Linked DNA regions of Homo sapiens: all the other regions are linked to region 2. The links come from fine-mapping of genetic effects on gene expression. A gene starts in region 2. Each other region holds a variant in brackets. All regions are shown on one strand. Distances are between the middles of the regions.

Evidence for each region. PIP is the estimated chance that this variant, and not a neighbour inherited with it, causes the effect. A credible set is the group of variants that fine-mapping cannot tell apart.
Region 1: its variant is the best candidate, but not a certain one, in a credible set for the expression of MRPS18C in B cells (Schmiedel 2018, PIP 0.72).
Region 3: its variant is the best candidate, but not a certain one, in a credible set for the expression of MRPS18C in whole blood (INTERVAL, PIP 0.54).

Annotation. Positions count from the first base shown.
Region 1 is chr4:83,430,403-83,440,592 of GRCh38, reverse strand. It overlaps HELQ (helicase, POLQ like), which reads left to right. Exons shown (of 18, transcript NM_133636.5): 8 at 585-730; 9 at 3,496-3,735; 10 at 8,326-8,467; 11 at 8,825-8,929. Among named protein-coding and RNA genes, the nearest start is that of HELQ, 20 kb to the left of the region's middle. The variant TG/G (reference allele first, on the strand shown) is at 4,619.
Region 2 is chr4:83,451,777-83,461,966 of GRCh38, reverse strand. MRPS18C (mitochondrial ribosomal protein S18C) reads right to left here and starts at 5,909. Exons shown (of 6, transcript NM_016067.4): 1 at 5,790-5,909; 2 at 5,009-5,058; 3 at 3,538-3,621; 4 at 2,170-2,227; 5 at 935-994; 6 at 1-846. The coding sequence starts at 5,889. The coding sequence ends at 770. HELQ (helicase, POLQ like) reads left to right here and starts at 6,144. Exons shown (of 18, transcript NM_133636.5): 1 at 6,144-6,570; 2 at 8,022-8,736. The coding sequence starts at 6,274. ABRAXAS1 (abraxas 1, BRCA1 A complex subunit) reads left to right here. Exons shown (of 9, transcript NM_139076.3): 9 at 1-2,450. RefSeq lists enhancers at 5,857-6,151, 6,138-6,247, 6,588-6,637, 6,066-6,896.
Region 3 is chr4:83,494,832-83,505,021 of GRCh38, reverse strand. It overlaps the pseudogene RPL30P5. Among named protein-coding and RNA genes, the nearest start is that of ABRAXAS1, 15 kb to the right of the region's middle. The variant A/G (reference allele first, on the strand shown) is at 4,951.

The DNA.
Region 1 (10,190 bases), 21 kb after region 2:
TTTAGAATTCTGTGAAGATGTGTTATTCTACAGCTATGTCTTTAGTAAAGTTGAAGAAATAGATTTTAAATAACTTCACATTTTTTCTTCATGTTCTTTGTGTTCCTCATGTGACTACAAAAATTGTCATAATTCAGTAGTATGATTGAATCTGTGTTTTTGAAAACTTAATGGTTGTAAAGGGCATGTCTTATTTACACAGTCCGTTAACTATTATTAGGATCAATCTGTGTTTCTCTCTGTGGACTTTTTTGTTCTGCTGTGGTGGAGATGGGCATGTAGTGAGGCTATTAATAACATTAACTATTTTCACTTCTTTAATTTTCTTTAATTCACTTGTTTAATTCTAGGTTTTTTTTTAGACTAACTAGACCTAAGAAAATCATAATAACCTAAAAGAAAAGTGAGATTGAACATTTTGATGTTTAATATAGATTTCATCTTTTCTTTTAAATGATCAGATTTATTAAATTAGAAGTTTAGAATTATAGATGGTTTATTTACCTTTCAAATCACACTGGTAAAAAATTGACAGGGTTTCATGTTTACTAACCACTTTGTTCCTACATCTTGTTGTTTTGCAGTATTCTGATACCCTAAAAAAGATGGATCCTGATCACTTGGTAGCATTGGTGACAGAAGTTATTCCCAATTATTCCTGCTTAGTTTTTTGTCCTAGTAAGAAGAACTGTGAAAATGTAGCAGAAATGATATGCAAATTTTTAAGCAAGTATGTTAATATTTTTTAAATAGCCTGTTTTATTTTTATTAGGAATTACAGACTATGTATTAATTTTATTGGGCAAACACTAATTATGCCTTGCAAAACATCATATTAAGTTGTTTTAGTATACTGAAGGCCTTGACCTTGAAGAAAGAAATTTTAACTGTGAAAAATCACATGTGAAATAGCCAGAGAAACATTCTAAGGTGGCTGGGCACCATGGCTCATGCCTGTAATCCCAGCACTTTGGGAGGCCGAGGTGGGTGGATCACTTGAGGTCAGGAGTTTGAGACGAGCCTGGCCAACACGGTGAAACCCCATCTCTACTAAAAATACAAAAAATTAGCTGGGTGTGGTGCCTTGCACCTATAATCCCAGCTACTGGGGAGGCTGAGACATGAGAATCTGTTGGACCCGGGAGGCGGAGGTTGCAGTTAGCTGAGATCGCACTACTGCACTCCAGCCTGCGTGACACAGCGAGACTCCATCAAAAAAAAAAAAGAAGACCAGGCACGGTGGCTCATGCCTGTAATCCCAGCACTTTGGGAAGCCAAGGTGTGCGGATCATGAGGTCAGGAGTTCAAGACCAGCCTGGCCAACATAGTGAAATCCTGTCTCTACTGAAAATACCAAATTAGCTGGGTGTGGTGGCGTGCACCTGTAGTCCTAGCTACTCGGGAGGCTAAGGCGGGAGAATCACTTGAACCTGGGAGGCAGAGGTTGCAGTGAGCTGAGACCACACCATTGCACTCCAGCCTGGGTGACAGAGGGAGACTCAGTCTCAAAAAGAAAAGGAAAAAAAAAAGACAAAACCCTAAGACTATATGTATGAGAATGTTAAGTAATATTAGGTCAGTGATTCAAAACCTTGGGTGCATAGTGAATCATCTTGGAGGCTTTTAAAAATTCCAAAGTCCAGGCTACATCTTAGACAAATCAGAATCTCTGGGAGTGACACCCAGATATCATTTTGTAAAGCTCCCCAGGCAAGTCCAACATATAGCCAAGGACAGGAACAACTGGCTTAGTCAGTCAAAGGACTAATCACTGTTACCACTGTGGAAATGAATTGTATCTTCCATTGCCTTTTTTTCTCTTTTCCTTTTTTTTTTTTTTTTTTCCTGAGACAGGGTCTCACTCTGTCACCTATGCTGGAATGCAGTAGCACAAATTCAGCTAGCTCACTGCAGCCTCTGTCTCCTGGGCTCAAGTGATCCTCCTACCTCAGCCTCCCAAGTAGCTGGGACTACAGGCACACACCACCACTCCCAACTAATTTTTTGTAATTTTCATGGAGATAGTATTTCACCATGTTGCCCAGGCTGGTTTCGAACTCCTGAGCTCAAGCAATCCGCCCCCCATAGCCTCCCAAAGTGCTGGAATTACAGGCGTGAGCCACTGCGCCTGGCCTGCCTTTGTTTTCTTAGTAAACTTCACACTTAGTTGTATGGACATTTGGATATAATTTCCTGAGTAAGAAATGTGTTGTCTTATAATTTTGTAGTATCTTAATATTGGCTCTGTCGTATTCATAGAGATAAGTATGAAGTTACTTTAACTACTAACAGTTCAGTTTTTTATACACCTGTTTGTCCCATGTGTGGTTTTATCATTTTCTGAGATTTCTTTCAGCCCCTTAGCTAATGCTGTATCACTATTCATAGTCTATTAACCTGAATGCTAATCTAGTCAACCTCTACCTCCTCTTTCAATCCTACTATCATGGATTGGTCTAAGATAGACTTAAATTTATTGAATAGCAAAATATAAAAATGTTTGGAATAAGATGAAGGAGTTGCTCATTTTGGTAACAGTCTGCTTTTACAATGATTTTGATTATAAAAGCTTAAGGAAATTAAATTATCATTAAAAAAATTCTCAGTAAATCATTCATTTTCTTAGAGTAATTCAAGGTAATAAGATGGAGACACTGGCTAAGTGATGGAAACATTGTAGGATGTGAAGTTTCTAAAGTGCAAGTGTTTAGGCAGTGTTTTACCATGGAAGTATGATTTAATAATATGTATGTTTCCATCTTCAGAAAAGAAAATTTATGTCTTTAAAAAAACTATCCCCTATAAAGATATATGTTATAAAGAAAAAAACAGTTATAACATCCAGAGCAAAGGTCTAAACCTGGTGTCCATGGATTCAAAGGAAGTACAGGAATGAATTTTAGGAAATCCACGAACCCTCTGAAATTATATGTAAAGTGTTGTATTTATGTAAATAGTTATATTTTTCCTTTTTTTTTTTTTTTTTTTTAGACAAGGCTTTGCTCTTTCACCCAGGCTGGTAGGTTCATAGCTCATTGCAACCTCAAACTCCCGGGTTCAAGCAATCATCCCACCTCATCCTCCCCCATAGCCTGGAACTGCAGGTGCATGCACCACCATGCCCGGCTAATTTTTGTTATTTTTTGTAGAGGTGGTCTTGCTTCACTGCCCAAGCTGATCTTGAACTCTTGGGCTCAAGCAATCCTTCTGCCTCTACCTCCCAAAGTGCTGAGATTACAGGCATGAGCCATCGCATTTCGCCTTTCCTTAGTTTTGATAAGATTTTCACAGGGTTCTGTAATCCACAAAAAGATTGAGAGACTGCCTAATAGTTAATGAAGTCAGAATCAAAATTCTAAGAACATTTAATGTACTTAACTCAATGGAAATAGTACATTAAAGAATGTTTACATTAGCATCTACTAAAATGAAAATGGTAGAAATTTTGTCACTAAAAGATCAAGGGCTCATATTTCTAACAGATCTTTTTCATAGGGAATATCTGAAACATAAGGAGAAAGAAAAATGTGAGGTGATTAAGAACTTGAAGAATATTGGCAATGGCAACCTGTGTCCTGTTTTAAAGCGCACTATCCCATTTGGAGTTGCCTATCACCACAGTGGCTTAACAAGTGATGAAAGGAAACTCTTGGAGGAGGCCTACTCCACAGGAGTGCTCTGTCTTTTTACCTGCACATCTACCCTAGCGGCAGGTGTCAACCTACCAGCTCGAAGGTAAGAGATAAGTAAGTGTTGACCAGGCTCAGAACTTTTCCATTTCTAGCTTGCGAGGAGTTTTGTTGTTTTATGCTTTCTCAGTAGTGGATGAGAATTTATCAAATGTTCTTTTAGCATATGCTGAGTTGATTGGTTGGTTTATTTTCTTTAATATTTTAATGAATATGTAATGAAATATGTAATGAAAAATAACGTTAATAGATTTCTTGATATTAGAATTCCATCCTTTCTGCTCTTTATATCTGGTTTTGATGTTAGGGTCTATTAATCTGGTTTTGTAGAAATAGTTGGCAAGTGTTTTACCTTTTTTATGATATGAAAGAGTTTATTTAACATAGAGATTTCCTTGAAATCTTGGAGAGCTGATCCATAGGCAATTTGTGTCTAATATATGTATTTTAAAGCAGGCCCTTGATTACCTTTCCAGTTATTACCAAAGGTGTAGGCCTGTGTAATTGACTTCTCCCCTTTATAATTTATGATCATGGGGTATTTTGCTAATAAATGATCAATTTTTATAAACTTTCCATGAGTGTTTAAAAAAATATGTATTTTCAGTTGAATATGCAGTTTTGTACATCTCAGCGAGATCACAGAGGTTCATTGTGTTATCGGCTTCTCTATTTTCTTACTATATTTGATTCCTTGGTCTATCAATTTCAGAGAAGTGTGTTAGTCTCCCACTTTAATTATGTAGTTATCAGTTTCTCCTTTTTGCATCTCTAGAAGTTATTACTTTTTATATTTCAAAACTATTTAGATATACAAAGGTTTACTTCAAATATCTTATTGCCGAATTATACCTTTTATCAATACAATAAATACTTGTTTTTCTCATTTAATAATTTTGCTTTGAATACCAGGACTCATTTTTTTTTTT[TG/G]CCACGTATGTACCTTTTTCCATTCTTTTATTTTCAATTTCTGTCTCTCATTAAGTTTTCCATTTTTCAGACAATTGAAGAAAAAAATGAAAGTTATATATCCTGTTTCTATTATTCCAGTGGTTACTCTTAAAATTTTAAGTTGTAACCAAACATTTTTTATTACTTTAGAATTAATCAATAACTGTCCTCTCCTGAACATAAAAAGAGGCTTAGCATGTCCTTAGTATATTCTACTCTGCCCCATGAATGTTGCAATTACTTAGAATTTTAGTGCCAGATTTAAACATTTTCTTTCATCTTATGTAGTATTTAAACTTACCTGTAAATCATACTTCTTTTTTGCTTACCACTGCCTCTTATATCCCACATCTTTCTTCTCTGATTTTTTTTTTTTTAATTTTGCCTTCCTTGAGTAATCCTTTTTAGAATACCGCTTTAGGGGGTAAAACATTTTGACTCTTTGCATAGTTGAAGATATCTGTATTTTGGCCTCACACTTTTACACTTCACTAGCAAAAGAATTCTAGATTCAATTTTTTTCCTTTAGGGATTTTGTAAATATTGTTCCATATTTTCTAGAGGCCAATGTTGCTCATTTTTGTCTCTGCATGGATTTTCTGTTTTTCTTTTCCAGAAACTTTTAGACTTTTCTCTTTAACCTCCCAATTTTGTCATGGTGTATAATAATAGTTGTAATTACTACATTCCCCTCCCTTTCATGTAGTAACAACTTTACATGCATTGACTTGATACAGCTTCACAATAACTCTGTGAGGAAGGTCATATTTTATTACACACCTATTATAGAAGGGGAAACTGAGGCACTAAATAATTAAATAATTTTCCCAACTTTAAAAAGTTACATAACTTTTTCCCAACTCATTTTCCAACAAATGAGTTTTAAAGCCAGTGTTTGAACCCAGGAAGTTTGATTTTACAATCCCAACAGTACTACTTTTCATTCATAGGGCTTAGCACTTGGGTGGATGCTTTTAATCTAAGCTTTATGCCTTTCTTCTTTGAGTAATTTTTTTTCTGTTATTTCTTTTTCTTCCCATTATCTCTGTTCCTTGCTTTTATAATTTCACTTAGGCAGGGTTGAGGCCTCTTAGATTCAGCTTTCGTATCTCTTTTCTTACACATTTTTCAGAATGTGGAAGAATGTAAGCACACGTTTGTGCCATGTAATTTTTTTCAACTTTACCTTCCATATCAAAAAATCAGTTTTTTTGTAATCCCAGCACTTTGGGAGGCAAAGGTAGGAGGATTGCTTGAGCCCAGGAGTTTGAGACCAGTCTGGACAACATAGCAAGACCTCATCTCTACTAAAAAATTAAAAACTTAGCTGGGCATGGTGGCATACACTTGTGATCCCAGCTGCTCGAGAGGCTGAGGTGGGAAGATTGCTTGAGCCCAGGACATCGAGGCTGCAGTTAGCTATGATTGTACCACTGCACTCCAGCCTGGGCAACAGTGAGACCCTGTCTCAAAAAAAAAAATGAGTTTTTAACTGATATCCATTAACTACATTAACTGTATCCATTAACTATTTTCATTCATTATTCAGTTCTTCAATTGAATTTTCTTTTTTGTGAGACAGAGTCTTACTCTGTTGCCCAGTGGCCAGGCTGGAGTGCAGTGGTGCGGTCTCGGCTCACTGCAACCTCTGTCTCCTGGGTTCAAGCGATTCTCCTGCCTCAGCCTCCCAAGTAGCTGGGATTACAGGCGCCCACCACCACACCTGGCTAATTTTTATATTTTTAGTAGAGTCGGGGTTTCGCCATGTTGGCCAGGCTGGTCTCAAACTCCTGACCTCAGGTGATCTGCCCACCGTGGCCTCCCGAAGTGCTAGATTGACAGGTGTGAGCCACCACACCTGGCCCTTCAAATTTTTTATGAATTTTTAAATAAAGTTAATTTTTTTTTATTTCTAAGAACTCTCTTTTGTTGTTCTTTCCTTATAATAGTCTACTCCTTTTTTTTTTTTTTTTGAGACAGAGTCTCGCTTTGTCTCCAGGTTGGAGTGCAGTGGCATGATATCTGCTCACTGCAACCTCTGCCTCCCGGGTTCAAGTGATTCTCCTGCCTCAGCCTCCCAAGTAGCTGGGATTACAGGCACACAACACAATGTTTTTTAGTTTTTGTGTTTTTAGTAGAGACGGGGTTTCACCATGTTGGCCAGGGTGGTCTTAATCTATTGACCTCGTGATCCTCCTGCCTTCGCCTTCCAAAGTGCTGGGATTTACAGGCATGAGCTACCACACACGGCCAATAGTCTACTCCTTTTTTTTTTTTTTTTTTTTTTGAGACGGAGTCTCGCTCTGTCACCCAGGCTGGAGTGCAGTGGCGCAATCTCCGCTCACTGCAAGCTCCGCCTCCTGGGTTCACACCAGTCTCCTGCCTCAGCCTCCTGAGTAGCTGGGACTACAGGCGCCTGCCACCACGACCAGCTAATTTTTTTATTTTTAGTAGAGACGGGGTTTCACTGTGTTAGCCAGGATGGTCTCCATCTCCTGACCTCGTGATCCGCCCCCCTCAGCCTCTCAAAGTGCTGGGATTACAGGCGTGAGCCACCACGCCCCGCCAATAGTCTACTCTTATATTGTGGATATAATACTCTTTGGAATTTTCTGTTAATGCTAATTAGGATTTTTAAAAGTTCTCTTCTGATCCCTATATTATCTGGTTTTGTGGTCACTTATTCTGTATATTCATGTTATGTTTCTTTTATGTTATTAGTTTTCTTCAAGTATTTGGTAATCTTTTCTGCATATGAGATTTATAAATAAAGAGGAAGTTGACTAGTATAGGTAAACAATAGGTTTTTTCTTCCCTTTGGATAAGAAAGCTGACTAACTGACTATAGACTTCTGTATATATGAACATAATTGAAATTGCTTTTTTTTTTTAAGAGATGGGGTTTCACTCTGTTGCCCAGGCTGGAGTGCAGTGATGTAATCACGATTTACTGCAGCCTCAACCTCCTAGGCTCAAGTGATCCTCCCACCTTAGCCTCCCAAGTATCTGGGACTACAGGGGCACACTACCATGCCCAGCCAGTTTTTTGTTGTTGTTGTTGTTGTTTTTGTAGAGACTGCATCTCACTATATTGCCCAAGCTGGTCTCAAACTCCTGGACTCAAGCAAACCTCCCACATCAGCCCTCCAAAGTGCTGGGATTACAGGCATGAGCCACTGAGCCTGGCTGAAATCACCATTTTTGTAGGTCAAAAACAGTTGACATCTGCAATTTTATACAGTTCAAAATAATAAAAATTCATAAATAGATATGTATATGTTAGTGGTGTATGGTCATATTTTTTATTTATGGAGTATAAAGTCCAAACGCTTTGGAGACTACTGCTACAGATTGATCATAGGCATTGCAGCTGGGCAGACTTGAGTTCAAATGATAGCTCTGGTAATTACTAATTTTTTAGTTTAGGATAAGTCAGTTAACTGAGTTGTAATTAATTCCTTTATAAAAATGAAATAAAAAAGTATATTATAACTAAGAGTTTTGTAAGAATTATAGATAATATGTGTAAAAACCTAAGAAATCATAGATTCTTGGTAAACACTAGTTACCTATTATTTTGTGTTAGTATGTCATTAAATTTAATATCACAAATATATAATGAAATTAAGAATTTTTTAAATTGGTGCTGTTTGCTGTAGAGTATCATTTTTCATTAATTCCACAGAGTTATTTTAAGAGCTCCCTATGTTGCTAAGGAATTTTTAAAGAGGAATCAATATAAACAGATGATTGGCAGAGCTGGTCGTGCTGGAATAGATACTATTGGGGAGAGTATCCTCATATTGCAAGAAAAAGACAAACAACAGGTAATACTCAATTTGGTTGGTTGGTTGTTTTTGTCTTTTTCTTGGTTGTTGGTCTAGCCCTTTTATGAAATCATCTTTTAAAAATTAATTATTAATTTTCTTTAAATGATGCTTTCTTTCCTATATGATTAAGAATTAGAGTGGTTTGAAAATGTATGTATTTCAGACAATGAAAAAATATTTTTCCTATTTGTTTTTCTTCCATTTTTAATGAAGATAAATGTTAAATTCTTTTGTCTTTACTTTTTTGGTCTCCTTCTGGCTCCACAAGATTTATGTAAAGTATAAAATATTTATATTAAATACCATTTATTTTTAATAATAACACAAGGCATGGTTTTGCTTTAACCTTTATAGGTATTGGAGTTAATAACTAAACCATTGGAAAACTGTTACAGCCATCTTGTTCAGGAATTCACCAAGGGAATCCAAACATTATTTCTCTCTTTGATTGGTTTGAAGGTATTTTTCTTAAATTTTTTATCTTATTACTGTTATCTGAGACAATAGAGGTTAAAAAGTTATGCAATAACTTTATATATGCAACTGTGTAGATTTTATACTAATTTTTTATTTAATAATTTTTTCTTTTAATTTTTTTCTTTTTAATTTTGTTTTCTCATCCCCTTCAGTGATTAATGTAAATAATTTTTAAAAGATCATGGAATGGTTAGGTGCAGTAGCTCACACCTGTGATCCCACCTCTTAGGGAGGCTGAGACAGGAGGATCGTTTGAGCCCAGGAGTTCAAGACCAGCCTGGGCAACATAGCAAGACCCCATCTCAAAAAAAAAAAGATCACTGAATCCTAATGCTTGGCAAGTGGTTGGCACTTAATAAATACTTGAATTAATGAAATTGGCTTTTTTTTTTCTTAGAGATGGGGTCTTGCTATGTTGGTTAGATTGGTCTTGAACTCTTGTCCTCAACAGTCCTCCCACCTTAGCCTCCCAAAGTGCTAGGATTATAGGCATGAGCCACTGCGCCTGGCCTGTTTTGTTTGTTTGTTTGTTTGTTTTTTCTTTAATCTGGGACATGGTGATGAAATTAACTTTGGAACTGAGCGTGGGTGAACTTCCAAGTTGGGGCATCAGTGGAGAATCTGGATTTGAGAAGCCAGAAGCAGAGGCTGGCCCAGTGGGTTTCAATTACTATGTCAAAAACTTTTTCAGGGAGGAATAGAAAGATAACATGATGGTAGATAGAGGGATCAAGTAAAGGTTCCCCTGCCCCCCTGCACTCTTCCACCCCCAGTGTTAACTCTAATCATTTAGGTAGGAAACAGTACAAAAACAAAGTACATTAATAATCCAAAAACCAAGTATCAGTTCTTAAATATCTTAAAAGTATAATTTTAGCTTAATTGAATACTATATTAATAATGATTTTTATTAAAGTGGGAAGAAGCAATAGAAAATGTCTGTGCTCCATTATATTTTTCTTACCCCTTATATTGGTTTAATATGAAATTACGACTTAAATTTTCCAGTTGAAATAGCATCAGAATTGTAAGAGAGAGAAATATACTTATTGATTGACTATATTTTAGTATAACATGCTGATTTCATTGAAATTGGCTAATAAAAATTATTCTAATTCAGAGTCAGCTCTACATCTGAATACTAAATGGAGGGTTAAGTATTCCTTATGATTGCCATTGTAAGTTATAAATAGTGAATAACAGTGAAAGAACAAGAAATGGAGATAGGAATGAGAGAGACAAA
Region 2 (10,190 bases):
AGAAGTACATTATGGCTAGAGTTGCCAGATAAAATGCTGGATATCATGCAATAAATTTGCAAAACATCATCTAAAATTTAAATTTGTCCTACATTTGTACTTGCTAAATCTGGCAGCCTTAATTATTACACAACTATAACACAACACAAACAGTAATCTCTCCCCTAGTTTAGAGTCCTTTGCATGAAATTTAGCAAATCTATCATTTTGAATACAGTACAAGCCTGGTAATCCAGTGTATTTGGGATAGGCCAGTGGAACTCAGAACTGATACATATATACATGTATGTCTATCATATTCAATGTCTATTAGGTGTAAATCATCTCTTCATGTAAAAGACACTACTGGTTTGAGGGTAGACTCGTCTAGGAATATTTTGTCCTTCTGTGACAGCACCACTATCCATCCCAATGTAACATTTCTACAAAGGGAAGATATCTTAACCAGGCATACTTATATTTGCTAGTTGGAAAATCATTCTGAACAGTTTTAATTCCATTCTATTGAATGGATTATTGTATGAGCTATTTGGGGATCAGATATAAATGACAATCACACAGAACCACTTTTATTCAACATAGATAAAATGTGATGAGTGTTAACATTTTAAATAAGCAATCTGCTTAATGGACATTGGTATGAAGGGGAAGTGTCATTCTTTACCTCACTCCTCAAACACTTTTCTATCCAAAGGTTGGTTTGAGTCAGTATTGGCATCATACAACCACTTACTGTAAAATAAGTTTATTAGTGGTAACGTGATAGAATTTATTCCCGATATCTGATGTTACAAACTTTAGGGTCCTTGAGATATGCAGGATCCTTGTATGTAACTGGCATAAACCCTGTAAAGAGATAATTAAAGTTCTTGACAAAACATAATGAGCAAAATTTCAGCTAGCTCAATTCAGTTGTTGAGGTATTCTTTCTTACCCATTATTTGAGCTCTCTTAATTGCTTTTGTGATTTCTTTCTGTTTCTTCCCACAAAGACCTGTAAAATAAAAAGCTTTCTTATTCATAAAAAATGTCAATATTTAAAGTTTGCAATTTTTTTTTTTGAGATGGAGTCTCCCTGTGTCACCCAGGCTGGAGTACAGTGGTGCTCTCTCGCCTCACTGCAACCTCCGCCACCCAGGCTCAATCGATTATCTTGCCTCAGCCTCCTTAGTAACTGGAATTACAGGCATGCACCGCCACACCCGGATAATTTTTTTGTATTTGTAGTAGAAACGGGGTTTCACCATATTGGCCAGGCTGGTCCTGAACTCCTGGCCTCAGGTGATCTGCCCACCTCAGCCTCCCAAAGTGCTGGGATTACAGGTGTGAGCCAACATGCCCAGCCTCAACAAGTTTTTAAGTCAAGGATTGGTAAATCATTTTTGTCAAGGGCCACAATAATAATCTAGGTTTTGTGGGCCATACAGTCTCCATCACTGCCACTCAACTCTGCTGTTGTAGCTCGAAAACAACCATATGGCACTACGTAAACAAAACTACAAAAACAAGTGGGGTTGGGTGCAGTGGCTCACACCTGTAATCCCAGCACTTTGGGAGGCCTAGGCAGGTGGATCACCTGAGGTCAGGAATTCAAGACCAGCCTGGCCAACATGGAGAAACCCAATCTCTAAAAATACAAAAATTAGCCAGGCGTGGTGGTGCATGCCTGTAATCCCAGCTATTCGGGAGGCTGAAGCATGAGAATCACTTGAACCCAGGAGGCAGAGGTTGCAGTGAGCCGAGATTGTGCCACAGCACTCCAGCCTGGGTGACAGTGAGATTCCATCTCAAAAAAAAAAAAAAGTGGCATTTGTATATGATGAACCTAATCAAGATAAAAAGGGAGCAGGTCGAATTTGGCCTATGGGCCATAGTTTGCTGACACCAAGTTTAAGTATCAATCTAGGAATGATTATAGTATATTCCAAAACATCAACAACAGTTTTTTAAAGCCCAGTTTTTCTATATAGTTAACTCTGCATAAGACAGCAAAATAATAATCCTCTTGGCCTAAGAGACTTTTTCATAGTAACTAGCTCTAGTCCCTGTAGTATCTGATCTAGTAGTAATTTATAGCACAATTTGAAAATTTGAGTTTTCTTAAATGATAGAAATAGATTGATATAATTCGTATCTACATTTATATTCCCATAATAAAAAAGAACATACCTGTAATGTGCCTTCCATAAATGCATCCAGTAAATGGAGAAACAAACTGGGACAAAAGCTGTTTTGGAGTTTTATGTGGAGGGGAAAAAAAAGTATCTGTTATTTATTTCTGAATGTGTAAATTTCAAAAAACAACCTTCAGGTTATATAAAGCTTTACTAAATTTCAGACACATTTCATAAAATATAAGAAAAAAATATTGTTATCCTCCTGTTACCTTTTAAATATTTTCTATCCAGTGTGTCAAGTCTATATATAATTAAACAGCAGATTAATCAGCATATTCATTCAATGGTAAATCTGTTTTCTTGACTTCCACAGATACCTTTCTAAAATATTGCTTGAAACAAGCTACTAAAAAATTTCATCTATCCTGACAAGCTATCACATTACCCTCTGATAATCATTAAGATAAATTATCAGGGGGTAATGAGATTTTCAAGAGGTACAAGTACACCAGGCATTTGCTATAATTTATGTTTTATTTAAATACTTCTTTAGAACCTTTCTAGGTGCTAGTCATTATTCTTGGCACTTTGCATAATCTTCCTAGTATGTGTGTTTTTGTAATTCTTGGTTCTTCCTCAAAGGCAGCTATCACTTTATACTATTGTCAATATATGGAATTCTTTTTTTTTTTTTTTTTTTTTTTTGACAGAGTTTTACTCTTGTCACCCAGGCTGGAGTGCAATGGCACGATCTCAGCTCACTGCAACTTCCGCCTCCTGGGTTCAAGCAAATCTCCTGCCTCAGCCTCCCAAGTAGCTGGGATTACAGGCATGCACCACCACACTCAGCTAATTTTTGTATTTTTAATAGAGACGGGGTTTCACCACATTGGCCAGGCTGGTCTCAAACTCCTGACCTCAGGTGATCCGCCCGCCTTGGCCTCCCAAAGTGCTGGGATTACAGGCGTGAGCCACCACACCCAGCCAACATACAGAATTCTAGCGCTATTCACTTGCCCCAAATTTGCAACTTCTAACTTGCTGAGAGTTAGACAAGAGATAAGTAATATGTGAATCAGTGATATGGGTGGTGAGATAAAGAGATCAGCTTCACCAGATGAGCTTTTTCCAAAGTTCTGACCCTCACCAATTGAGAATTACTGCCACAGGGAGCTATTAAGATGTTTGGGGTAGTGAAAAAAACAGAGTGGAAATAACAGTAAGTGGGGGAAAGCCAAGGTGCTTTTACTTGAATAAAGCAGAGATAAGCTTATACATAGAATTATAACCAAATTTGAAATTATGAAGTTGCTAAAACAGTTACCTCTACAAAAGCCTGCTATAAACTGACTTGATTCTCTTTAAGCAGATCTATCAGAAGCAAAACCCTAAAATATAGTGAAGTAAAACCAGATCTCACCTGTACATTCTTATAATCTACATGCTTTCCACACAAGATACATTTCTTAAGAGGTTCTTTATAAGGATTTTCCATTGAAATGGGCTAGGGAAAAAAACGAAAAGTCTGATAATAGGATGTGTTAATTCTGAATTTTAAAAGGTTACTATTCTACATTCAAATCCATTCAAAGGATTAGTTATACCTTTCTTACTGTGTACATATTTTGTATAAGCACTTTATTTTGTTTTAGTTTAGCCTACGGATTAACGCATGGGAAGATTCTGGAATAAAGTACAATCTTCATAGAATAAAATTTTATGGCAGAACAAAAATGATGTCTGATAAGAAAGTGTTCCAATGCTTTGCTCAGATTGTAGATAATGAAAAAATTTTTAGATTTAAGGAAACTTACAACACAATAGATAACATATGCCATTCTTAAATGAGTACAATCCCTAATTTATCCATCCCCATGTCTCTATCAAGTATTTTATCACTATTTTTATACACAGATAATGGCCCATGACTTACTGTAATAAAAGGTTCTTTGACTTTATCACCCCAGGCTACTATATAAGTTTGTATCAGTCTTTTTGGCTTTTCTGTTACCACCACTGCCTCTAATGCTTTTGTCACAGTGCCTCCTTCCTACAGTCAGTATGGCTGTCTCCAGGATAGAGGTTCTTAATCTAGAAATGGCTTTGAAGCCCATGACTCCCTGTAATCGTATGCAAAACTTCAAATGAATGGGACTGTGTGCCTTTTTCTGTGGAGAGGGTCCATAACTTTGATTAGAGACAAAGTGGGATTTATGAACTAAAAAAGAAATAATGTCCCTTTACTTTCTTAAAGTATGGTGCATGGATTAGATTACCAAGACAGATGCTCAGAGAAACTAGACAAGTTCTTTTGTTTTTTCCAATTCCTCAAACTTTCCAATTTACATTCAGCTCACGTAACTACTCTTCAGCTCTGTGCCAAGTGCTTTGTATGGTCTAATTAGTGTCAAAATACCTTTGCATGTAGCAAGAACCTGTGCTTTCAGAAAGTCCATGTTAATACTATAGCCAACCTATAGCTAAGCTTTGTACAGTCTCTTTTCAGTTATCTAAAATTCTGCTCACCCAAACTACCTTTTAAAATTCCCATATCATTTGCTTACAAAGGGCTATGTAAAAAAAAAAAAAACAATTCCCAAATCACATATCCTTAAATTTAAGATCTAGGAAGAAAAATATGGTATTATAGCAGCTTTGCTTCTAATCTAGGAATTCCCCTACTTCAAAACTCAGCTGACTACATGACTACAATCAATTCATCATCATTTCTGAACTCAGAGTAATTATCAAATTGTTTTGTCCTACGGCAGAACTCTATTCAAGTAGCTAAAATAAAAGATGTTAGAGTCTAATACCAGATCTCGTTTTAAAAAGAAAAACATTTTGGTCATATTTGCAAAGGCCTTACTAATAGAAAAAAAAATTCTTACCAGGTCCTCATTGCTGGATACCTGTTGTGAACAACCTCTTCTCCAAAGCACTGCGATTAAACAGAAACAGCAATTAACCATTTCTTTTTCTTAGCTGAATAGCTAAAGATTTTTGTTTTTATGGAGACAGGATGAATTAAGGGACACGATATTAAAGAAAGGTTTTGTATTATATTCAGAATGGTTAAAAACTTTTATATTTGGGACAGAGTAAGACTCAACATGGGTGTGCTTTCCAGGGCTTAGGGGGAAAAGAACATATTTTCCCGCCCATACCTGCTCTTTCTGACATTTATTTTCCCTTCATTCCATGGTTAGAGAAAATTCTTAATGCAAATTCTTATAGGAGAAGCAACAGAAAGGCACTGTCATACCAAAAAGAAAGTAACAGACCCGTCCCAGAAAGAATTTATAGAGAAGCACAGAGAAGATAAAATTGCAAAAATTATGCAATTTTGTTCTGTTTGGGGACCTTAGACATCTGGAATTTGCTGCTGGGCGACTCTGGAAATGTCCCTTCCTCACTAAGATTATCCAGAGATCTTAGGAAAGTCTCTGCTTTTTAAGAACCACTCCAACTTCCTCATACGTTTAAATACTTTAAAGGAGTGGATTAGACGACACTAAAACAGTCAAAGGCAATTACAGATTCCCACCCATCTTGGAGAAACTTAATCGCCTAGAAACCAGAGTCGTTTTGCTAACAGGGACGACTCTAACCATTAGGACTAAGGTTAATGCCTGCAGCGCTACAATGGAGCATAGGATATGGAGACTTTACCCGTGTGAGTCCCGGGATGTGTAAGGCTGACAGCAGCCGTTACCAAGTGTGTCAACTTCTTCCTCCCTAGACCACCGCAAACAGCAACCACAGCGGCCATGGTTCCGCGTTTCTTCCACTTCCTTTCGTTCCAAATCGTTCCGAAAGGCCCCTTCCGCTGCTCTTCCCCTGTGGGCTCGAGTACCCCGTTCAAAGGTTCCGCAGGAGAACGCTGAGGACCCGCGAGAGTAGGTGAGGTTTTTCAATACGCATGCGCAGCACCTTTCTGTTCGTGCCCTCCCTACGCGGCAGGTCACGTGAGGCTTATGATTGGACAGGGTAGAAGTTTATGCGTGCTTCCGGTCCGCGAGCCCTGAGAGCTAACTTGGGGTCTTTTCCCAAGGTGGATGTAGAAGCGGGCTCCGGCGTCCCACTCTCCCTTCCATATGGGCTTAGCGTCTGGGTCACTGAGAACGACGTCTGAATAGGGCCCTGGGTCCTTGCCATGGATGAATGTGGTTCCCGCATCCGCCGGCGGGTGTCTCTCCCCAAAAGGAACCGTCCAAGCTTGGGGTGTATTTTTGGCGCTCCCACCGCGGCCGAGCTCGTGCCCGGAGATGAGGGGAAAGAGGAGGAGGAAATGGTGGCTGAGAACAGGAGGCGGAAAACCGCGGGCGTACTGCCGGTTGAGGTACAGCCCCTTCTACTCTCAGATTCCCCGGAATGTCTCGTCCTTGGAGGTGGTGATACAAACCCGGACCTCCTACGTCACATGCCCACTGACAGAGGGGTGGGAGACCAGGTACGGAGGACTTGGAACTTGAAACTGCAAACTTTTGGCATCCTTCCCAGATGCAAAGAGTTGACCAGTTTTATCGCCTTCGTTTACTTCTCTCGTCTTCGTTACCACTGTTAATCGGCACTTAGGAGGTATTGATTGCCTTGTTATTTACATTTCTATATAAATATGAAATGTAAACCCCGAGACATAAAAGTTGTGCACGCAGCAGTTAAGTGGCATGACTGAGACACAAATCTAGGCTTCCAGATAACTGCAGCTCCTACTGTACAAATAAAATCTGCTGTTTATTGAAGACCCGTTATGTTAAGCTAGTTATATTATCTAGATTTTACGACAGTAATCAGGCCCTGAAAAGTTGAGATAGTACAGTTCTTGCTCCAAATCCTGTTGTCTTAATCACTTTACTATATTGCTGCCTCCAGGTTTGTGTGTCTTCTGTGTAGCAGACCACTCCAAGTCAGTATTCAGTTTCTCAGTCTCAATTCCAAATTCCTAGGAACTCCTTGGAGTGTCTAGTGGTACAACCATGTTTCTGTTAGAGGCCAGTCACTGTAGATTGTAGTCTGGGAGGGAAGCGCTGCAGTTATCAGAAACTTCGAATGCGCTGACATTTCAGTAGACGTCTACCAGTCTTCCTGCTGTTTTAGTACAGCTTTAAGAATTACAATCTGGCCGTGTGCAGTGGCTCATGCCTATAATCCCAGTGCTTTAGGAGGCAGAGATGGGAGGATCACTTAAGCCCAGAAGTTCGCGTTCAAAACCAGCCTAGGCAACAGAGACCCAGTCTCTACAAAAAAAAAAAAAAATTTTTTTTTCTTAATTAGCCGGGTGTGGTGGCCTGCACCTGTAGTCCTAGCTACTTGGGAGGCTGAGGCAGGAGGATCGCTTGAGCCCAGGATGTCAAGACTGCAGTGAGCTGTGATCGTGCAGTGGCTGGAGCCACTGTGCTCCAGCCTGGGTGACAGAGCCAGACCCTGTCTCAAAAATTAGAATCTCAGTATCATCGTAACACTCCTGAACCTGCTGTTTAGGCAAGTAATTTAACCTCTTTGGGCCTCCATTTCTTCAGCTGTAAGATATCTATTTACATATAGGTCTGTGATCCATATGTGACCATATAATTATATACTTGGTACAGCCCTAGGCTGAAGTGTTTTTTGGGGGTTTTGTTTGTTTGTTTGTTTTGGTTTTTTTGAGACAGAGTCCCACTCTGTTGCCCAGGTTGGAGTGCAATGGCGCGATCTGGGCTTACCGCAACCTGCGCTTCCCAGGTTCAAGCAATTCTCCTGCCTGAGCCTCCGAGTAGCTGGGATTACAGGAGCATGCCACTATGCCCGGCTAATTTTTGTATTTTCTGTAGACACGGGGTTTGACCATGTTGGCCAGGCTGGTGAAGCTTTTATTCTTAATGAAACTGGAATTGACCATAAGCGTTTTTGTTCTCTTTGCAGCCTAATGACAGTGAAGTGGACATGTTTGGTGACTATGATAGCTTTACTGAAAACTCCTTTATAGCTCAAGTTGACGACCTGGAACAAAAATATATGCAACTCCCTGAACATAAGAAACATGCTACAGACTTTGCCACTGAAAATCTTTGCTCGGAAAGTATCAAAAACAAACTCAGCATTACTACCATAGGCAACCTTACTGAATTACAAACTGATAAGCACACAGAGAACCAGAGTGGATATGAAGGTGTCACTATTGAACCTGGAGCTGATCTTTTGTATGATGTACCTTCCTCACAGGCTATATACTTTGAAAATTTGCAGAACTCTTCAAATGATTTGGGTGATCATTCTATGAAAGAAAGGGATTGGAAGTCATCCTCTCACAACACTGTGAATGAGGAACTGCCCCATAATTGCATAGAGCAACCCCAGCAAAATGATGAGTCCTCTTCCAAAGTCAGAACTAGTTCAGATATGAACAGGAGAAAAAGTATTAAAGATCATCTAAAAAATGCCATGACTGGAAATGCGAAGGCCCAGACACCAATATTTTCTAGAAGTAAACAGCTCAAAGACACTCTCCTATCTGAGGAAATTAATGTTGCTAAGAAAACAGTTGAGTCATCATCAAATGACCTTGGTCCTTTTTATTCATTACCCAGCAAAGTGAGAGACCTTTATGCCCAATTCAAGGGAATTGAAAAATTATATGGTAATGCTTTTTGCTGGAATAAAAAAATTTTTTTCCTATCATTACCATAATATTAGTGCAAGTAAATAGAAGCAAATGCTTTCATGGTCCATACTGTTTCTCATTTTGAAAACAAAAGATCAGTGATCTCTCAGCCCCTTCCATTCCTACCTGTCCTGCTACCACTGAACCTCTTTCCTTCCCTCACAGTCACACTTATCAAACCAGTTATCCTTTCTGTCTGTTTCCTTACCTGACATAATTCCTCTAATTCCTCATCTATAAGAAAGGGATAATAAGTTGTTAGCAAGTCAGATTCTGGTTCAAAGACATGCCAAATTCAATGTTGGTAATGATTTTCAATAATTATATTGGTAGCTTCTAAGTAAGAACTTTAGTAAATTACCCCACTCTAATTCTGGGTTCTGTGCTCTCATTCTCTCACTTAAGATCTGATGACTGAGACGTCTAAACACAGTGTTACTTTTAATGTTTACCTTACCTGACTTCTCAATAACTTACCTGATGCTATTGACTACACCCTTCTTGAAATTCTTGTTTCTGGATGTCCTTACAACCACTCCTGTTTTTTGACCCCGATTGTCTAGTAGAGATCCTCAGCTTTCTTAGTTGTATTTCCTTGGCTGGCTCTGTCTTCTCTACCAAAACCTAGCTGTTGTGGTATGTCTTTGACACTCACATGTCTTGAGTGAAAGAAGTCAGTTATTAGTAATACTGTTGATTAAACCAAACATCTTTCCCCCCACACCAGCAGCCGCAGCTACCTCTCCCCACGGGTGCATCCCTGCCACCACCCAGATGCTCTGCCTTGTGCTGCCTTTCCCAAAGCTAGACATCTTTAAAGACAGCTGCAATTAAGTTTTAAGTCAGGGATGTCCAATCTTTTGGCTTCCTTGGGCCACTTTGGAAAAAGTATTGTCTTGAGCCACAATAAAATACAGTAACACGATAGCTGATGAGCCAAGAAAAAAAATTGCAAAAAAAAAAATCTCATAATGTTTTAAGAAAGTTTACAAATTTGTGTTGGGCCACATTCAAAGCCATTCTGGGCCTCATGAGGGCCGTGGGTTGGACAAACTTGTTTTAAGTGCAAAGAAGCAATAATATTAAGAAGGTATCTTGTAATGTTTTTCAAAAATCCAGGGTCCTTGCATATATTTCAGATATGTGTCATTTTAGACCAAGAAGGGACAGTTGCTGCCATACTGGAGGGTCAGCCCCATCAACCTTCCACTTCGTAAGTTTTCTGGAACTCCTGTTAGGATCTTATGAATGATATGAAAACTTGGGTTCTTGCAGAGAAGACAATCAGGTTGGAGAAGCAGAACTACAGGAAACAAAGTCTAATAAAAGACTCTACAAGAATCCAAATTGTGAGGTTCATGACTTAAGAGCTAATGGTGTGTGTTGCCCTGGAAGTAGACGTTAACTTTCTTCCCTCTGTTCTTCCCTCT
Region 3 (10,190 bases), 43 kb before region 2:
TTAGGCCTCAGCCCGCCTGCACCCAAGTGCTCATTAAAACAGCATGTTGCTCCAAAAAAAAAAAAAAGATTGAAACTGGCCCAATAGTCTCATAGACTATTCTTTTTGATTAACACAGAAATTGACCCTTCTGGTCTCAGCTTGAAGGTTATATTTATTTTATCAGAGTTCCTTCCTCAGGAAAGGTCCTTCAGGCCTCTCAAAATATAAGTATCAAAGAACTGAAAGTCACCAGATCACGGCACCAGGTGACTGCTTCCTTGCCCCTCCCCAGTTCTTGTTTTCTTACACATTGTTACACTTCGTCCCTGATATATAAACCTGGCATTTTAGTAGTCAGGGAGATGGACTTGAGACTGAGCTCACATCTCCTTGGCTGCAGCATCTGACTAAAGCTTTCTTCCTTGGTGATACTCGTCGTTTCAGTGATTGGCTTTCTATGCAGCAAGCAGCAGGACCTAGACCAAACCACTCATGTTTCAGTAACAAGATCTCTGTCCCCAGGCTACAGGTTCACTCACAGTGAACTCAGGTGAAGGTGCAGACCTTAGAGTCAGATAACAGTGAGTTTGAGTTGAAGGAAAGCATTAAGCCTCAGTTTCTTCCTAAACAGGAAAAGTACAGCATCTCTTAGGACCTTAGTGAGACAAAATTATGTAATACAATGAATGCAAAGTGTCTGGTCTGAAGTGAGCATGGCCTTCAGCAAATAACTTCTGTGAGCCTAAATTTTTTAATCTATGACTTTGATATAGTAGAATAGTGGTTTGTTATGAAATGAAATAGTGTACAAACACAACAGACACACAGTACTTCTCCACTTCCTGCCCCTGCCCCTGCCCCCAGCCCCAGCCAGCCAATCACAACTTTTACATTACAAAAAAGTCTGTTTCAATTTCCTGATGCATTTCTGTGAAGAGTAACTCACCACAGTAATGAGCAAAGATTAATTTAAAACATAAATAGAGCTTAGGCAACATAGGAAGACTCTGTCTCTACAAAAAAATCTTTTTATTAGCCAGGTGTGGTGCCACATGCCTGTGGTCTCAGCTACTTGGGAAGCTGAGATGGGAGGATCACTGGATCCTGGTAGGTTGAGGCCGTGCAGAGTCATGATTGTGCCACTGCACTCCCGCCTGGGTAACAGAGCAAGACCCTGTCTCAAACGCACACACAAAAACACACACACATAAATAGGCCGGGTGCAGTAGATCACACCTGTAATCCCAGCACAGCACTTTGGGAGGCCAAGGTGAGAGGATTGCTTGAGCCTAGGAGTTCAAAGTTTCAGTGAGCCATCATTGTGCCACTGCACTCCAGCCAATGCGACAAAGCGAGACTCCATCTCAGAAATAAATAAAATGAAATAGGGATGAAAAATATATGAGTGAAGAAAAAAATGACCATCTTAAGAAAAAAACCTGAAAAGTCCAAATGCATGAGACAATATTGTAGCATATATGCAACCTTCAAAATATGCCCAGTGGTATATCACTGGTTTCTTTCTCCGATTAATAAAGAAAAAAAGTTTGGGGGAAGAGTCTAATTTTTGGAAATTGGGCCACTTGTACCATAGTTTATTCTTCTTAAAAAATTATGACTTCACTTTTATGTTAAATATTTGTTTGAAACAAGCTGAGGCAAGTTTTATTAAAGAAAAATTTTGCTTGATGGCTGGGCACGGTGGCTGATGCCTGTAATCCCAGCACTTTGGGAGGCCGAGGCGGGCAGATCACTTGAGGTCAGGAGTTCAAAACTAGCCTGGCCAACATGGTGAAACCTCTTCTCTATTAAAAATACAAAACTTAGCTGGGCATGGTGGCAGGCGCCTATAATCCTAACTACTTGGGAGGCTGAGGCAGGAGAGAGAATTGCTTGAACCTAGGAGGCAGGGCTTGCAGTGATCCAAGATCACATGCCACTGCACTCCAGCCTGGACAAAAAAAAAAAGAAAAAGAAAAAAAGAAAAAGAAAAATTGTGCTTGTTTTACTTTTCACCAGTCTGCTCTGGCATGCTACTAATGATATCAGAATGGGGTCAATGATAGCCAGTGTGTGCAGTATTTTCCCCAACCTGTGCCCAATTCCAAATTATTGCCACTGTGGTGATGGACACCAGTTTTGGCCAGTGTGGCATTGTACTTTATTTTATATTTCCTCAAAGCTGGGCAGTTGTGGTGAGGTCAACTGATTTCGCTTTGCCTTGTCTGATCATATTCAGAGTCTGCTTGCATCCCAGCATGTACTATCCACTTTTCACAATGAGTTGGAACCTAGAGTTTATCAACTCTAGTGACTTTTTCATCTTCACTGCAGCCAGCATCTTCCTGCCTTAGAGATGCGATGCCCCCCAGTCAAGAGCAGCCACCAAGATAGCCAGGGAGCAAGAAAGGAAGGAGTTCTCACAATGCAAAGTTCTTCACAGCCTACATTAAATAGTTTTTAAAATCATAGTCTCCGGTTCTGCCTATTGGGTACATTCCTCATTTTTGCAGGCTTTAATGACTTCCCACTAAAATGTAACAGGTTTATAATGGGGTTCTATAGACATATATATTACTGGTATACTAAAACCTGATTTTCCGAGTGCTATTTATACTACTTCCCAATCCCACTATTCAGCTACTTATACAAAATCCTCATTCATATATTCTAGTACTTTCTTTTAGTTGGGATGTAAATGTGTTGTTAATTAATTTACTTAAAAGGGCATCAAATGCCATTACCTTGTTAAAGGGTGCCAAAGATTTAAGCAAAATATTCAGTGGGGCTGGGTACAGTGGCTCACACCTGTAATCCCAGCATGTTGGGAGTCTGGGGCGGGTGGATCATTTGAGACCAGGAGTTCGAGACCAGCCTGGCCAACATGGAGAAACCCCATCTATACTAAAAACACAAAAATTAGCCGGGCATAGTGGCGAGTGCCTGTAATCCCAGCTACTCTGGAGGTTGAGGCACGAGAATCGTTTGAGCCTGGGAGGCAGAAGTTGCAGTGAGCCAAGATAGCACCACTGCACTCCAACCTGGGTGACAGAGCAAGACTCTGTCAAAAAAAAGAGAGAGAAAGGGAGAGAGAGAGACAGAGAAAGAAGAAAGAAAGAAAAGAAAGAAGAAAGGAAAGAAAAGAAAGAGAGAAGGAAAGGAAAGAAAGAAGGAAAGAAAGAAGGAAGGAAAGAAAGAAAAGAAAGAAAGAAAGAAAGAGAAAGAAAGAAGAAAGAGAAATGTTCAATGGGTTCTGAGGCAATTGGTCTAAGAGAGTTGTGGAGGGCAAGACCACACCCTCTGTGATGGTGCAGTTCTTCCCTTGGAGGTGTGGCAGTCCTCCTGAGGGGAGACGGATTCTAGAACAGAAAATAATGTGGGGCAGTGCACCTTTCATTAGAAGGAGGAAGGAAAACCTTTCCTTTATCTTGTCTTCTGCCATTCGGCTTAGACTCTGAGAGTAGAGAATCTTAACGCTACACACAGTAGTAGTGGGACTGAGACTTGGGCTATAGCAGTGTTGGTTTGGGGCCAGTCAGAGAAAGTTCCATAAAAGACCCTGAGTAAGGGTCTGGCCCTTATAGTTTTTTGTTTTGTTTTGTTTTTAACTTTAATTTTAGGCCGGGCCCAGTGGCTCACACCTGTAATCTCAGCACTTTGGGAGGCCGAGGTGGGTGGATCACCAGGTCAGGAGTTCAAGACCAGCCTGGCCAACATAGTGAAACCCATCTCTACTAAAAATACAAAAAAAAATAGCCAGGCGTGGTGGCAGGTGCCTGTAGTCCTAGCTACTTGGGAGGCTGCGGCAGGACAATCGCTTGAACCTGGGAGGTAAAGGTTCGCAGTGTGCCAAGATTGCGCCACTGCACTCCAGCCTGGGCAACACAGCGAGACTCTGTCTAAAAAATAAATAAATAAGTAAAATAAAAAACTTTAATTTTTAAGTTCAGGGATACGTGTGCAGGTTTGTTACATAGGTAAGTCTGTGTCATGGGGGTTTGGTGTACAGATTATTTCATCACCCAGGTATTAAGCCTAGTACCCATTAGTTATTTTTCCTCATCCTCTCCCTCCTCCCACCCTCCACCCTCCTGTAGACACCAGTGTCTGTTGTTCCTTTCTTTGTGTTCATGTGTTCTCGTCATTTAGCTACTACTTGTTAGTGAAAACATGCATATTCAGTTTTCTGTTCCTGGATTAGTTTGCTAAGGATAATTGTTACAGGTAGTTAGGCATGAGCAGGGGTCAGGAGAAGACTCCCCAACCCACTAGGAATGTGGATGATGGTTCAGTAATTATCACATCACCTCTCTAAAAGTGATACATTGGCAGCCGGTGCCAGGGAGAGGCCATTTCCTGATGGTCCACACCTTTTGCACTAAGGTGTTAATTGAATACAGACACCAGGGCGAAGCAACTTCCCAGGCATGCGCATTAAGAGACAAAATGGTGGAGTATGACCCTCCAAGAAAACACCACCAAAAAAGGGGAGAAAGCTTCAGATGGGCATGTGTACAACTTCCTAAACACGTGCACCCAAAGATAAGGAGGGCGCTGTGTGTGTAGGCAGCCCATCCTAAGGGAAGAGTCATGGGAAAGCCAGCCTATAAAGTTCCAGGGTCAAGGTTAAACACCACACTTGATCTCAGTGCCTGCTTGGGTCTCTTACAAGCCTACTCTCCTTTTCTTTCTTTCCTGTTCTAAAGCCTTTTAAATAAACTTCCACTCCTGCTCTGAAATTTGTTTCGGTCTCCTTTTCTGCCTTATACCTCTCAGTTGAATTCTTTCTTCTGAGGAGGTAAGAATTGAAGTTGCTGCAGACCCATACAGATTTGCCACCAGTAACTCAGATACCTTCCACCAGTAACATAATGGCCTCCAGCTCCATCCGTATTCTTGCAAAGGACATGCTCTCATCAATGGAAGACTAGATAAAGAAAATGTGGTACATATACTCCATGGAATACT[A/G]TGCAGCCCTTGTAGTTTTGCATTACTCTTAGCTTTCCGTATCTGTAAAGCATTCAGTAAAGCTACATCAATTGTCAGGCCATGAGCCATCCAGCTTCTTTCTCTTTGGAGACCAGATGTCCCAAATTATCATCACAGTCTCATGGATTAAGAACAGCAGATAGCTGGGCACAGTGGCCCATGCCTGTAAACCCAGAACTTTGGGAGGCCAAGGTGGGAGGATCACTTGAAGCCAGGAGTTCCAGACCAGCCTGGGCAACACACCAAGACCCCATGTCTACAAAAAAAAATTTTTTTAATTAGCTGACTAGTGGTGGATGTCTATAGTCTAGCCACTCAGGAGACTGAAAAATACATAAATGGCCAGGTACGGTGGCTCATGCCTGTAACCCTAGCACTTTGGGAGGCTGAGGCGGGTGGATCGTCTGAGCTCAGGAGTTCTCGACCAGCCTGGGCAACACAGTGAAACCCCGTCTCTGCTGAAAAATACAAAAAATTAGCCGGGCGTGGCAGCATGTGCCTGTAATCCCGGCTACTGGGGAGGCGGAGACAGAAGAATCACTTGAACCCGGGAGGCAGGGGTTGCAGTGAGCCGAGATCGCACCATTGCACTCCAGCCTGGGTGGCAGAGCGCGTCTCCATCTCAAAAACAAACAAACCAACAAAAAAAAACCATAAACATTTAGTCTGGGTGCAGTGGCTCACGCCTGTAATCCCAGCACTTTGAGAGGCCAAGCCTGGCAGATTACTTGACATCAGGAGTTAAGACCAGCCTGGCCAACATGGCAAAACCCTGACTCGCCTAAAAATACAAAAATGAGCTGGGCATGGGGGTGCATGCCTTTAATGCTGGCTACTCGGGAGGCTGAGGCACGATAATTGCTTGGACCTGGGAGGTATAGGTTGCAGTGAGCTGAGATTGTGCCAGTGCATTTCAGCCTGGGTGACAGAGCAAGACTGTCTCAAAAAAATAAAAATAAACATTTACACAAGATATTTTAGTTTTCTCTTGCTTCATAAAAAAAAAATCACTCTAAAATTTAGTAGCTTAAAATAACAATGATCTATTATTTCTCTTGATTCTGTAGGTTGACTGAATTTAGCTGGGTGGTTCTTCCACTCCACTTGTTGTATTTGAAGTCACTCATGAGGCTATGTTCAGCCCGAAGCACACCTGGGGCCAAACCATTCCAGAGAAGCTCATCTTCTAGAGTGTCTCTCCACATGGCTCTCATCATTCAGTGGTCTGGCCTGAGCTTTTGTACAGCACAGTGGCTGACTTCAAAGATGTTGAAGGTGGAAGCTTCCAGAACACTTAAAGCCTAAGTGTGGAAGTGGCAGAGTCACACAGGATGCATTGTATTGATTAAAGGAAGTCACCAGGCCACCTCAGTTAAAAGGAAGGGAAAATAGACTACTTGATGGGAGAAGCAGCATGAGTGCATAGGGTAGGAGAAATTGTTGATGGCCATGTTTGCAGACAAACTACCACACACAGTAATATATAAGATCATTATATGTATTTCCTCTCTGTCTCTTTAAACAGCTATCAAAGAATTTGTCCTTATTTTATTGTTTTTTAACTTTTCAGCATGAACCCACAGGACATAGAGAGTCCATTTTCCTTCTTTTTTTCCTTCTTTCTCTCTCTCTCTTTTTCTTTCTTCCCTTTTTCTTTCTTTCTTTCCTTTTTCTTTCTTTCCCTCTCTTCTTTCTTTCTCTCTCTCCTCTCCTCTTTTCTTTTCCTTCTTTTTCTCCAAGAGACAAGTTTTTGCTCCATTGCCCAGGCTGTAGTACAGTGGTACAGTCATAGCTCACTGTAGCCTCTTAACTCCTATGCTCAAGCAATCTTCCTGCTCCGGCCTCCTGAAGTGGTAGGATTAGGGTGTAAGCCACTGCACCTAGCCTAATTGTCACATCTAAATGCAGTAACTTTTCCACAACTTTGTGAAGGTAGCAATTTATTTTGAAATAAAATTTACATAGCCCAGATCCTCTCTCAGTTGTGTTTGCAGCTGCTCAGCCATCTCTTTCTGGTATCAATGCCACCTCTAGCTTGCTGAGCTCCAGGCAAAAGGCAGGGGGCTGGTAAGGAACAAGTTTTCTATACCACAGCTCTTTCTAAGCTGATTGCCTGCAAATCAAGCAGGGAGTGAAGAAATCTTATCACTACAGGCCTGGCACTCTGGCATTCCTTGAAACCAGACATTGTTAGAAGTTCACTAAACTTTTATTTTTCAAATGTCTCATCCAGCATCTGGTGTGAGAAATTGTGTAGGACTTTAACACTGATCTTGGAGTTTCCAGAGTATAGCTTTTGGTGCTTGAAGGAGGCACGTGAAGCCTATCTGACTGCCCTATTTGAAGTTACTAACTAGTATGTGATCCTAGTATAATAATTATGAAAAAAGACATCCAGCCATTCCCTAGTATATATACAAAAAGAGCTTAAAATCCACTGTGATCAGGTGCATCTCATTCTCAAACAAAACAAAACATGTTTGTCTTCCCTGTTATTATTTATTCTGACCATTAGATATTTGGTGGGGGCAGGGAGAGAAGTTAAAAGGTATCTAAATATATTATTGTTACATTAGACTGGGTGGCTTAAAAAACAGAAATGTACTTTCTCACAGTTCTGGAAGCTCTAAGTTCAAAATCAATATGTCACCAGGCTTGGTTCTACGAATAAGACCTCAAAAGCACAGACAACAGAAGCAAAAATAAACAAATGGGATTATATCAAACTAAAAATCTTCTGCACGGCAGAGGAAACAATCAAGAGAGTGAAAAGACAACCTACAGGATCAGAGAAAATATTTTCAGACTACTCATCCCACAGGGGATTAATATCCAGAAGATACAAAGAGTTCAAACATCTCAATAGCAAAAAACAAAACAAGAAAACGTCTGATTATAAAGTAGGCAAATGATCTTAACAGAAAGTTAAATACCGCATATTCTCACTCACATGTGGAAGCTAAAAAAAGTTGATCTAATAGAAGTAAAATGTGGAACCAGAGGATATTAGAGACTGGGAAGGGGAGGATAGGTAGAGATTTGCTAAAGAATACAAAATTACAGCTAGATAGGAGGATAAGTTCTAGTGCTCTGCAGCATTGCAGGTTGCTTATAATTAACAATAATGCGTTGTATAGTTTCAAATAGCTAGAAGAGAGGATATTGAATGTTGCTCTGTGTGTGTGTGTTTGTGTGGGTGTGTGTGTGTGTTTTAAGATGGAGTTTTGCTCTGTCACTTAGGCTGGAGGGCAGTGGTGCAATCTTGGCTTACTGCAACCTCCACATCCCCGGTTCAAGCAATTTTAGTGCCTCAGCCTCCCAAGTAGCTGGGATTACAGGTGTGCACCACCATGCCCAGCTAATTTTTGTATTTTCAGTAGAGATGGGGTTTCACCATGTTGTCCAGGCTGGTCTCAAACTCCTGACCTCAGGTGATCCCCCAGCCTCCGCCTCCCAAAGTACTGGGATTACAGGCGTGAGCCACTACGCCTGGCAGGATATTTGCTAGAGCAGGAGCACCGTCATCTCGGACAAACACCACCACTTTAAGTTCCAGCTCCCTTTCTAGCCTCATGCATTTCAAGGAAATCACTTCTCTTCTAACTACAAGCAGCCAGAAAGAGCAGACAGTAAAACACAGATAAGACCGCTTGGAAACAGAGGGAGGTGAGGAGAAAGTCTCTTGGGTAACTGCCAAACTTCACCCTCATACAATGGGCCCCAGTAAGACAGTGGGCCTTAATAAGCACTTTTCTTTCCCTTCAGGAATACTAAGATAGAGAAGCTAAAAGCAGACTTGGGGGATATGCCTGCAGCTGCAAAAAGGTGTATGGGAATAGAAACGCAACTGTCCCTCCCAGATAAGCACAACAAAGAGACACAGAAGCAGTCCAAGCCTCTTATAAACTCTCCTATCCTGAATCTTTAGAAACTCTTAGTCTGTTAGAGAGTGTGGCTCTGACCTAACTCAGCCAACCGCCCTTCTCAGGTTTATTTAAAATAAACCTGCCCCTGTTGACTGAAAAGCCATCCTTTGTGTTTCTCTCCTCTTTCTTTAATTCTTACAATATTAAATGTTGTCAACACAAAGAAATGATAAATCTTTGAAATTACCAATATGCTAATTACCCTGATCTGATCACTATGCATTGTTTGTATTAAAACATTATGTAGGGCCGAGCGCCGTGGCTCACTCCTGTAATCCCAGCACTTTTAGAGGTTAGGCGGGCAGATCACGAGGTCAGGAGATTGAGACCATCCTGGCCAACACAGTGAAATACCGTCTCTACTAAAAATACGAAAAATTAGCCGGGCGCGATGGCGGGCCCCTGTAGTCCCAGCTACTCGGAAGTCTGAGGCAGGAGAATGGCGTGAACCCGGGAGGTGGAGCTTGCAGTGAGCCAAGATTGCATCACTGCACTCCGGCCTGGGCAAAAGAGCGAGACTCCGTCCCCCCCAAAAAAAAAAAACATTACGTAGCCCATGAATGTATACAATTATTATTTTTTAAAAAACGAAAAAAACATGTAATATTGACAGCAACTAATTAGATGAGTTTTGTAGCATTTTTAGCTTCTATCCATTCAGTATTCTTTTTTTTAGACAGAGTCTGGCTCTGTCACCCAGTCTGGAGTGCAGTGGAGCGATCTTGGCTCACAGCAACCTCTGCCTCCTGGGTTCAAGCAATTCTCCCGCCTCAGCCTCCCTAGTAGCTGGGATTACAGGAGTGTGCCACCATACCAGGCTAATTTTCGTATTTTTAATAGAGATGGGGTTTCACTGTGTTGACCAGGCTGGTCTCGAACTCCTGACCTCAACTGATCTTCCCACCTCGGCCTCCCAAAGTGCTGGGATTACAGGCGTGAGCCACCACATCCAGCCCATTCAGTATCTTTTTATAATTAAATTTAATTTTTTTAAGTATGTTTTTTATATATATGTTTATACATATTATATATGTGTTTATATATTTTATATATGTTTATATATAAAACATAAATATATATTTATATATAAAAATATAAAAACTATATATAAAATATATATAAACATATAATGTATAAACATGTTTATATATTTTTTAAATATTTATATATAATTTATATATATTTATATATAAATATACTTATAAAAATTATATATAATTTATACATATTTATATATAAATATACTTATAAAAATTATATATAATTTTTAAAAATATATATATAAATATATTT